2 separate regions of the Homo sapiens genome follow, and region 1 is linked to region 2. The links come from fine-mapping of genetic effects on plasma protein levels. A gene starts in region 2. The other region holds a variant in brackets. All regions are shown on one strand. Distances are between the middles of the regions.

Region 1 (5,377 bases), 64 kb after region 2:
TTATTTTACTTTTTTTGACTTGTGGTTGTCCTTTTTGTGGTACACTCGTGTATTAGCCCATAATAGTGTCCTTTGGAAACTCATGTGGTTGACACTCTCATTTTCGAGAAGGCCAAGGGTGCATATGTGCTTTAAATGTTTTTGATGTATTTGTAATGGTAGTATTAATTTTAACTCTGTCAAGTGTAAAATGATTTGTTTCATATTTCTAATTCAATAGTGTGCAAATATTGGGCCAGCAGATTACAATTATGATGAAACTATCAGTACATTACGGTATGCCAATCGTGCTAAGAATATTAAAAATAAAGCTAGAATTAATGAAGATCCAAAGGATGCTTTGCTGCGTCAGTTCCAGAAAGAAATAGAAGAACTGAAAAAGAAGCTTGAAGAAGGTAGCTTTTCCTCAAAATATTAATCTTTATGTTGGCTAAAAATACATTGTTGAACCACTAACTGTTCTAACAAAAGCCCTCTATTAAACCTTTTTTGAGCCTCTAACATTGGTAGTTAAATGAATATTTCTAGAAAGTGACTTGGTACTTACATACTTTCGCATTTTCATATTAAGCTTAAGTAAAATTACATAATATTTGTGTATGTGGTTTTTTAAAAACATTTGCATGATGTTTTGTAGATTTCATATGACCACTTTTTAAGGAATGAATGTTTATTTGTCTCTGTATAAGAGCAAATTCTGCAATGTATGTATTTAGGTGAAAATGACCAGAATTCTGGCATTGCAATCAATATCAACTAACTATTGTTTGAAGTAAAGCAAGATATTAGACAGTCATGAGTAAACCAAGTTTGCTATAAGGAAAAATGCATTGCATGACCTTTAAAATATCCTTTCATACCTAAATTTGAACATGAGATTGTATTTTGGAAATTCTTTTCTAACAATATCATGCTAGAAAGTTGGAAAATTTGAAGATCTTATTTATGAGAGTGAGACGCTTCCCAGTCATTAAGTGCTGAGTGAGTCCTTGCACCTTAATGCGAGAAACAGATCCTTTCTGATTGGTACAGAGCTCCTTCGCGAACCACGTAAACAGGGCTTTGGTTTCAAAGCACCTTTGTAGTCTGTGAGAAGACTGACTAGATCAGAGGTGAAATTCAGAGACGCCAGCATCACAAATGTTTAGAGAGGGTACTTATTTAGTAAACAAGTAGTTATTGAGGAAAAGCAGTAAGAGAACTGTTAGATAATGAAATTTGGTGTTTTAAATGTGACCACTAGGTGGTATTTATAGCCAGTATGTTTTAAAGATTTTTAATTTCTTAGCGATGTTAACGGTGAGTGCATACTTTTATTTTGCTGACTTTATGTTTTACATTTTTTTGTTGTGGTAAAATATACATGACATAAAATTTATCATTGTAACCATTGTTAGTTAAGTGTACAGTTAGTGGCATCAAGTATATTCGCATTGTTGTGCAACTGTCACCACTATTCATTTCTAGAAATTTTTCATCATCCCAAACAGAAATGCTGTGCCCATTTAAGTAGTAACTTCCTATTCTTTTCTCCCCCAGTCTCTGGTAACCACTATTCTACTTTCGGTCTCTATGAATTTGACTATTCTAGGTACCTCATATAAGTAAAATCATGGAGTATCTACTTGTGACTGGCTTATTTCACTTAACAGAACGTTGAAGGTTCATCCATATTGTAGCAAGTGCCTGAATTTTATTCCTTTTTAAAAAATTGTGGTTAAACTTGCATAACATAAAGTTTACCATTTTAATCACATTTAAGTCTACATTTCTGTGGCATTACATTCACATTGTTCTGCAGTTATCCGTCTTCAGTTTTCTTCTTGCAAAATTGAAACTTTGTACTCATTAAAAACAGTATGTACCCATTCCTCCCTTCCCCTAGTTCCTGGCCAACAACCATTCTGCTTTGTCTATGAATTTGACTGCTCTGGGTATCTTACGAAAGCGGAATTGGTGGGGCGCAGTGGCTCACGCTTGTAATCCCAGCACTTTGTGAGGCCGAGGCGGGTGGATCAGTTGAGGTCAGGAGTTCGAGACCAGCCTGGCCAACACGGTGAAACCCCATCTTTACTGAAAATACAAAAATTAGCTGGGCATGGTGGCTCTCGCCTGTAATCCCAGCTACTTGGGAGGCTGAGGCAGGAGGATCACTTGAACCTGGAAGGTGGAGGTGGCAATGAGCCGAGATTATGCCACTGCACTCCAGCCTGGGTGGCAGAGTGAGACTCCCATCTCAAAAAAAAAAAAAAAAAAAAAAAAGAAAGTGAAATACAGCATTTGTCTTTTTGTGACTGGCTTATTTCATTTAGTATAATGCCTTCAAGGGTCATCCGTGTTGTAGAATGTATCAGGACTTCTTTTTAATTCTGAATAACATTCCATTGTGTATATACTACATTTTGTTATCCATTCATCCACCAATGGACAGTTGGTTCTTTCCACCTTTTGGCTATTGTGAATAATGCTGCTATGAACGTGGGTATACTAATACCTGTTTGAATTCTTGTTTTACCATTTTTGGGGTATGTACCCAGCAATGGAATTGCTGGATTCTATGATAATACTGTTGTTAATACATTTCAGTTCATTTTTGCTCTTATGACATTTCTTTTTATAATCTAGTTAATGGAGTTGATCATATCAACAATAAAAAAGTAGGCAATAGCATTAAAATAATAATTTTTAAACTTAAAAATTATTGTAGGCTATATGCAACTTGCAAACATGATATGGAGAGTTCCTATCTAC[C/T]CTTCACCCAGCTTCACCTCATGTTAACATTTTTTATAAGCATACAACAGTTATTGAAACCAGGAGATTTACATTGATATAGTCTTATTAACTAATCTGTGGACTTTATTCAAATTTGGCCAGTTTTCCTTCCAGTGCCTCTTTTTCCTGGTCCAGGATACAATCCAGGATCACACACTGCATTTATTTGTCATGCTTTCTTTGTTTTGTTGTTGTTGTTGTTGTTGTTGTTTGTTTTTTGTTTTGAGACAGAGTCTCGCTCTGTTGCCAGGCTGGAATTCAGTGGCACAGTCTCAGCTTACTGCAACCTCTGCCTCCCTGTTCAAGCGATTCTCCTGCCTCAACCTCCTGAGTAGCTGGGACTACAGGCACATGCCACCTCGCCCAGCTAATTTTCGTATTTTTAGTAGAGACAGGGTTTCACCATGTTTGCCAGGATGGTCTTTATCCTCTGACCTCGTGATCTGCCTGCCTCGGCATCTCAAAGTGCTGGGACTACAGGCGTGAGCCACCATGCCCGGCCATGTCATGCCTTTTTAATGACGATGTCTAGCACACTTGTTCTTCAGTCTAATTCCCCAGTCTTTCTTGATCTTGACATTTTTGAAGAGTACTGGTCATATATTTGTTGAATGTTCATTAATTTGGGTTTGTCTACTTTTCTTTTATAATGACCCTGCAAAGTTTCTCCACTGCAAATCTATTGTTTTATGTTTCCATTCGTAATTAACATGTATCTTGTGGGGGATACTTTGAGACTGCAAAGGTCCTGTTTCTTGTCATACTTTCTTCTACTATTTTTAGTATTCATCAATAGTTCTTGTCTGCAACAATAATCCTGTGGCATTTGCTCAATGTTATTTTCTATTCTCATCATTTCTTCCTTGTTTAGTGTTTAGGATTCTATTGTATGGAAGAACAGCCCCTTCATTCCCATTTGTTTATTTATTCAAGTATTTATCTTATTTAGATCATGGATTATAATCCAGTGTTATCATTATTTATTTTGTTCATTGAATTGTTCCAGCTTTGGCTATTATGAGATCCTTCAGAGTAGTTCCTGTATTCTTTCAGCATGTGCTCATCAGTTTTTTTGAGCATTTGATTACTTTTTGGCACTACAAAAGGTTTTAGGTTTATCTTGTGTCTTCCTTGCCCAATCTTAGAATCATTCACTTCTCTCTGGTCCCTTCTGTAGGAGAATGGTATTTAGAAACCCAGTTTTGGGCACTAGCTGTGCTCATTACTACCAAGATGTCATTGTTTCTAAGCCCGAAGAAAAAAATATTTTTCAGAAATTTCTTCTCCCAAGACTCTGTGTTCCTTTCCATCTTGTACTTACAGGTACAATTATTACCTGGTTGTGATTAGAGTATATTTTACTTTTTTCTCCTCTATTTTATTTTGTTAGACATTTCATATGTAAACAGTGGCATTTAAAAATAGCTAATTTGAAGATGATATAGTGCTGATCTGTTTTATTGGCTTCATCATTCCTTTTTTGTTTTTTATCTTTAAGTTAATGTGTAGTTAACACTGTCTTTGTACAAATAAGCACTTCTTTTTTTGAAAATATCTTGTGATACAGTCCTAAAAGTGGGATCATTGTTACATGACAGTTCTGTGTCTCTTAAAAATACAGATTGAATGAATTATTTGAAATCTTAAACAGGAAGCTGTTTTAGAAGAAATTGTTCCTCAAAAGTGATCACATTTTTAAAAGACTGAATTAGTAACTCTACCACATAATTTATATATATATTTAAAATTATACATAAAGAAATGATTTGAATATTTTTATTTTTTTTTTTGAGACAGAGTCACTCTGTTGTTGAGGCTGGAGTACAGTGGTGCCATCTCGGCTCACTGCAACCTCTGCCTCCTGGGTTCAAGTGATTCTCCTGCCTCAGCCTCCCAAGTAGCTGGGATTACAGGTGCATGCCACCAAGCCCAGCTAATTTTTGTATTTTTAGTAGAGATGGGGTTTTGCCATGTTGGCCAGGCTGGTCTCAAACTCTTGGCCTCAAGTGATCTGCCTGCCTCAGCCTCTTAAAGTGCTGGGATTACAGGCGTGCGCCACCTTGCCTAGCCAGAATGGTTTGAAATTTTAAGTGGGTCAGAATTTAACTTCTCTTTAGAGACTTTAAAAATAAAGTCTTTTTGGATATCTCATCTGTGTCTGAGATTGGCATATCTGTTATACTTTCTAGGAGCATTTAAATAGTATTTAAATTTGTTGTTTGCAGTAACAAAAATCTGAGGAAGAAAGCTGATATAGGTATTTCCTAAATAGCTAATGACTTCGTACAGGATAAAAAACATTGTATTAAATTTCTGTCCAAGGAGAAGAAATATCAGGCTCTGATATCAGTGGGTCAGAGGAAGATGATGATGAAGAGGGTGAGGTTGGAGAAGATGGAGAGAAAAGGAAAAAAAGAAGGGGTAAGTTCTGTTTAGTAATCTGATTTGTAGAAATTAGGTGGTTTCACAAGGTGGTAGAGTGCATGACTTTTATTTTGCCGTTATCTGTTTAATATATTAGATAACAATTAGAACAGAAGATGTATGCCATTTACCTGGTTAACTTTGCATTTTTTCTCCTGTATTGATCCGTTTATAGCTGACT
Region 2 (5,377 bases):
TATATTTTAATTTTCTAATAAACAAAAATTTCATAGTATTAGAAAAAAAGATTTTCAGGCATCTCACTGGAACGGATAGTCCAGAAACAGACTTGGCAGAGATGGCTGCAGCCTCCCAACATCTGCTCTCCTCTAACATTTTATGGACTTTTTAGCTGTGCACATGATAGCCAGAATAAAGACCCCATTTTCCAGCTCTGGCCAATAGCATGTAAGCAGAAGTGCCACATGGCAGCTTCTGGAATCCTCTGAGAGTTGGCTCATTTGCACTGTATTACTATCATTGCCTCTTGCTGCCTGGAATGCAGATATCACCATATTGGACCATGAGAGCAAGACCACGTAAGGCCAAGCAACAAGAAGAAAGTGTGCGTAGAGAGTCACATAAGCCCTGGACTACCTACCTGGACAATGTAAGAAAGGAAGACATTTCTATCTTGTTGAAGCAGCTGAACATAATCCTAACTGATGCACAACCTGCACACACATACAGAAATGTCGTCTGTGATACCATTTGCATTGTACATCAGAGGGGAAAGATGAAACAACTGGTTTGGCATACACATACACAAATTGCCTAGATGTGAAGGAGTTAAAAAAAAGTTTTTAAAGAAAATTTATTCTTTTCTCACAAACACAATATCTTTGTGAAGTTAGGGAAGGGTCTTTATTTTTAGAAGCCAAAGTAAAAATAATAAATAAAATAACAAGTACACTTGACAACATCAAAAATTTAAACTTCTACATGACAAAAGAAAGTATAAACAAAAGTAAAAGACAAGCAAGAGGCCTGGAGGGCAGCATTTCCTGAAGCGAAGTCTTGTCATGTTCAAGTTCAGTGTGGTGCTGGGTATGTATGCAGGGTAGAGACAAGGGGCAACAAAGTGTGGGTAGAGCTGTATATTCCCCTTTCTTTTGCACAGAAAATGCATATTAGCTGATCAAAAGCTGAGGACTTCTACAGAACCCTGTCTGTGTATGGAACTCAGCATTCCCCAGTTATTTGACGGTGAGACCAATCTTTTTGTGGTAAAATCTATGAACTAACCTCTAGGTGTATACGAAACACTCAGAAATGCTGCCATAAGAAATAACACTTTGCCATGTGAGAAATGATCGTTATATTCACCTTTTGAGCCCTCATAGATAATTCTCACTCTTTTATAAGTTCTGACCAGCAGCAGCATAAAATGAGAGAAATTTCGGCATTGTGGAATAGGAGGAAATTCTCCTGTTTACTCCTACAGAGCAGAGTGAATATATCCCAAAAGAAGGAAGTCACCTGTACTCTGAGCTTTTCCTTCTCATAGCCACTGGCCAGGACTGTAAGAAGTACATGTTTTGAAATATTTCCGATTAGAGATAAAAGACCATTTTGAAGATAATTTAGGGCTAGTCCCAGAGAGTTGTAATGCAGAACTGCCATACGGATGGCAGTTGGTCGTGATTTCTTGTTAGTTATAGGGAAAGAAAAAGGAAACAGTAGATACAGTCTAGGATGATCAATTCAGTATTGACCACACATTCTCTGGGCTCTGAGATTAAGGCCCTTGTAGTCTAGAGAGGGAGATTTTATTTAATATTATATTTTAAGTACAACTTAAAGCCCTTTACTTATGTTATTTAATCCTGTAACATAGGTGCTATACTTGTTCTCATTTTTAGGACCAGGGAAGGGAGGCATAGTTAAGTAACTTGCCTAGCTAAGGTTAAAAAGCTAGCAGGATTCCACCAGGAAGGTTTGCCATAGATCCAGCTACCCTAACCACTGCTCTGCTCTATTTCTTGTAGATAACTTTAATACAGCATGGGAAACAGCAACATAGAGAGAGGAGCAAAGTGAAAACATTGTCAGGAAGGTCCAGCGGGAAGTCAGTCCACCTTGGGGACAAGCTACAGTTTGCCTGGGAGAGTGAGGAGGGGAAAGCCAAATCAGGGTGACAAGGTCAAACAGCAGAGAGGGGGCTCCTCTTAAGCCAGGTGTGCTAAGTCGAACGTGGTCTTTAGGCACCTCCAGTCAGCACAAGTTTCTGAGTAGGAGAAACAGGTCAGGTTGCTTCTCAGCATACTGGGGTGAGGGGTGTGTGTGGAGGGTGGACCAACCTGGGATGAGGCCAGTGGGGGGTAGGGGGCAAACCTTGCCACATTCCCAGAAAGAGCAGAGAGAAAGGCAGAGGGAAGAGAAAGAAACGGGGTTTCAGAGGATTTGGGAGCTGCTTTTGTATAGATTGTCAGTGAGAAGGATACAGAACCTCCTGAGGCCTCCGACCCTGGCGTAAGTGTTAATTTTCTGAACGTTTTGAGCAGTGACATTAGCGGAGAGAACGTGCACGCACTGGGAGTGGTCATCCTCTTTGCACAATGGTGGAACCATTAAGACGTTGTCCCAAGCCCTTGGGACAGGCAGGGTGATGGACACTTGCAATCTGACGCCTTGACCGTCGAGCTCCGCTTTTCTATTGCAGGAATCCCAGCCTAAACTGCGCATCCTGCTCGTTGGTTGCACAAGGAGCCGAAGGCTGGTCCCTTGCCCGGGAAGGCCGCCTGGCCGGACGCGCGGGTCCCGCCGGGGTTCCCGCCTTAGCTCCGGCCGGAGCATCAGGTGGGGCCCAAGACACCCGCAGACTAGGCTGCCGCGGCCTCTCCCGGATCCGACGGGTCTCCCGCAGCTTGTCCACACTCTGGTTGGTGGTCCCAGCACATTTGCAGGCTCCAGCGGGTGGAGACGGCTTGGTGGGGGAGATCTCTAGGGCGCACGCCGTGCCCCACTTCCCCCTTACGGGAAAGGCTTTCCAGCGCGCGGACCCAGGAGACTCTCACCTAGGCTCGGCCCCAGGCTCCAGGGGACACGCAGAGGCCCGCCGGGCACCAGCCCCGAGCCCCCCGACACTGCCGTCCCGGTCCCCCAACGCGCGGACTACAAGTCCCAGCAGTCCCCGCAGCTGGCACCTCCCGCCTCGCCGCGGAGACCCCCGGCCGTCCAAGCGGCGGGGCTCCGGCTGCGCTCGTGGCCGGGCCGGGCGGGGAGGCCGGTCCCGCGGGCGGGGGCAGGGGCGGCTCCGCGGCTTCTCCCGCCGCCGCCGCCAAGGGGAGTTTCCAGGAAGTGGCCATATTGGATCCATTCAGCCGCAGCCGCCCGGGCGGAGCGCGTCCCGCAGCCGGCTGGTCCCTGTCGCTGCCCCTGCGCTCGTCCCAGCCCACCCGCCCGGTGCGGAGCTCGCCATGGCGGCCACCGACCTGGAGCGCTTCTCGGTGAGGGCCCCGCTGGGCCACGGCGCGCGCGGGAGGCGCGGGGCGCAGGAGGGGCCGCCCTGCAGCTGGCGGGGGGCGCGAAGCGGGCTGTCAGCGCCTCACGGCCGGGCCTCGACACCGGGCCAGCTCGAGGACCCCGGCGCGGGCTCTCGGCCGCGCTATCGGGGGGTCCCGGAGCGTCGGGCGGCCTGCCTTGCCGGGCGGCTGGTCGGGGTCGCTTCCTGGGGCGCAGGCAAGGCTAACCCCTTTCGCGGGAAGGAGCAAAGACCCGCCTGGCTCCGGGCAGGTGCGAAGATAGAGTGGCGCCCGCGGGGCCGCAGGTGAGGGTCCGGGACACTCCGGACCCTATCGCCCAGGGTGTTTCTTTCTGCACACTTGGGGAAGAGTCCTAGCCGCACAGGTGCTGCGGGATAGGTACAGCCGGGGAGGATGGAGGCCCCAGGATCCGAGAGAGTCTCCCACACGAGCCCAGGACAGTTGCAGACTTGAGTCCTGAAGACCCTTGGCCTGCTTTTCCTTCCTCCCCCGCTCCCCTCTGCCCCGCTCCCCACGCCGGAATCCTGGGTGCGACTCCAGGCAGGTCAGGCCTCAGTGGTCGGGTCTGCGGCAGCCATTCGCCAGGAGCTGGAGGGATTCCAGACTCAGCCCAGTGGGCGTTTATTTGGGCTCCAGTCCAGGTCCTCAGAAGGTTGATGTCCCTGGTGGTCCCTGCAGGGGTCTCACTGGGCCTGAGCCTGCCGACAGCCAACTTACTAAAGGCTTTCATAATTCACTCGCGGGAGGGAGGCCTTTGGGGGGTTGTATCTGGACATCCCCTGCTGTCTAAGGCTGGATCTGGGTGTGTCTGGGAGGCTAGGCTGTGACAGTGAAGGAAGCTGTGTCCTCTTGCCAGCATGTAAGGCCCTGGTCGGCTGGAAGGGGGAGGAGGGGGAGAAGGAGGAGGAGGAGGAGGGAGGCCCAGGGCTGTTGGAGGGAAGGGGGAATTCTGAATATGTGAACGATAACGAATTGGTTCTGGGGCTAAATAAGGGAGCCAGGACTTATGTAATTAATGCTATAAATACCGTCATCCCAATTTATATATGTAAATTTTCCATTTAATCTGAAAATACATTTCTTATTCTACTTTGGAAATGTGCATGACTAAAGCAGGAGCTCTTGGTTTCATAATTTCTAGACTCGGGTGTTTTATTCCCATTGGAGAGGGGGTCGTATGTCAGTTAAGTAAGTTTAAATACATGAGGAACAGATTCAGAGGCTGGGCTACTCAGAGATTCACTTCGCCCCGTATTATAAATTGGAATTTATGTACCGGAGGAGGGCAGTGCCTGAATCCTAACAGACCTGCTGATTAGCTGGAGGCCAAGAGACCCGTGAGTGCCTGGGTGTCTCTGCATGTGTGTCTGTGTGCATTTTCTGTGCCCAGCTGACCAGAAAGTTATGTCTGGGTCTTGTCTGTGGCCAGAGGTTTAACAGTTGATGTTGCAGGTGGGAGAGGTATGTAGAGAAACCAGAATCAGACAGCCTGATAGGAATCCTAGACACTCCTTGTTGGCCATGTGACCTTGGGCAGGTTATTTAACCCCTTGGTGCTCTCATGCGTATAATGGGATAGAAATATTTCTTCCCTCATAGGGGTATTGTGAGGATTCAACAAGAGAATCCAGGGGAGGTACTTAGCCCTGTGTCTGGCACATGGTAAGGACACAATAAATAATATATGCTACCTATTGTCCACGTGGATGTGAGGACTGGCCCCCTATGTAAGAAGGGAGCAGAGGATGCATTTGCCCTGTTCATGGCACTCTCTGTAGAGCTTCCATCCCTGCTCGTCCAGAGATGGTCCTCAGAGGGTTAGCTGAGAGGCCATGCTGTGGGCTGGTCAAGCCTTCCCCTGGGGTCCTGTGTTTGCTCTCGGACCATTCCTGTGAGGAGTTTTGGTATTAGCTGCGGGGTGGCCAGGGCACAGAGAGGGGACTGACTCAGGCAAGGGCGTAGAGCCTGAGCGCAGGGCCTTGGTTGCTATGCCAGCTTCAGCTGGAGGGATGGACACCTTCCACACCCTCTGCACTTTGGGCTGTCAGCCTCCTGGAAGGGCTTGGATAGGGTTGGATTTGGGTGGAGA

Direction of the effects. Alleles are on the strand shown, and positions count from the first base shown. The strength of an association depends on the size of the effect and on how common the allele is.
In carriers of allele C in region 1, the plasma level of the protein whose gene starts at base 3,121 in region 2 tends to be higher than with T alone (weak association).

The links. A credible set is the group of variants that fine-mapping cannot tell apart. PIP is the chance, under the fine-mapping model, that this variant and not a neighbour inherited with it causes the effect. The UK Biobank Pharma Proteomics Project read protein levels with antibody pairs (Olink). The fine-mapping took linkage between variants from a reference panel, not from the people measured, so its PIPs are less certain.
Region 1: its variant is the best candidate, but not a certain one, in a credible set for the plasma level of the SEPTIN8 protein (UK Biobank, PIP 0.60).

The regions. Positions count from the first base shown.
Region 1 is chr5:132,710,775-132,716,151 of GRCh38, reverse strand. It overlaps KIF3A (kinesin family member 3A), which reads left to right. Exons shown (of 19, transcript NM_001300791.2): 8 at 221-395; 9 at 5,095-5,193. Among named protein-coding and RNA genes, the nearest start is that of KIF3A, 24 kb to the left of the region's middle. The variant C/T (reference allele first, on the strand shown) is at 2,752.
Region 2 is chr5:132,774,983-132,780,359 of GRCh38, reverse strand. SEPTIN8 (septin 8) reads left to right here and starts at 3,121. Exons shown (of 10, transcript NM_001098811.2): 1 at 3,121-3,252. The coding sequence starts at 3,223. RefSeq lists silencers at 2,801-2,850, 2,941-3,350.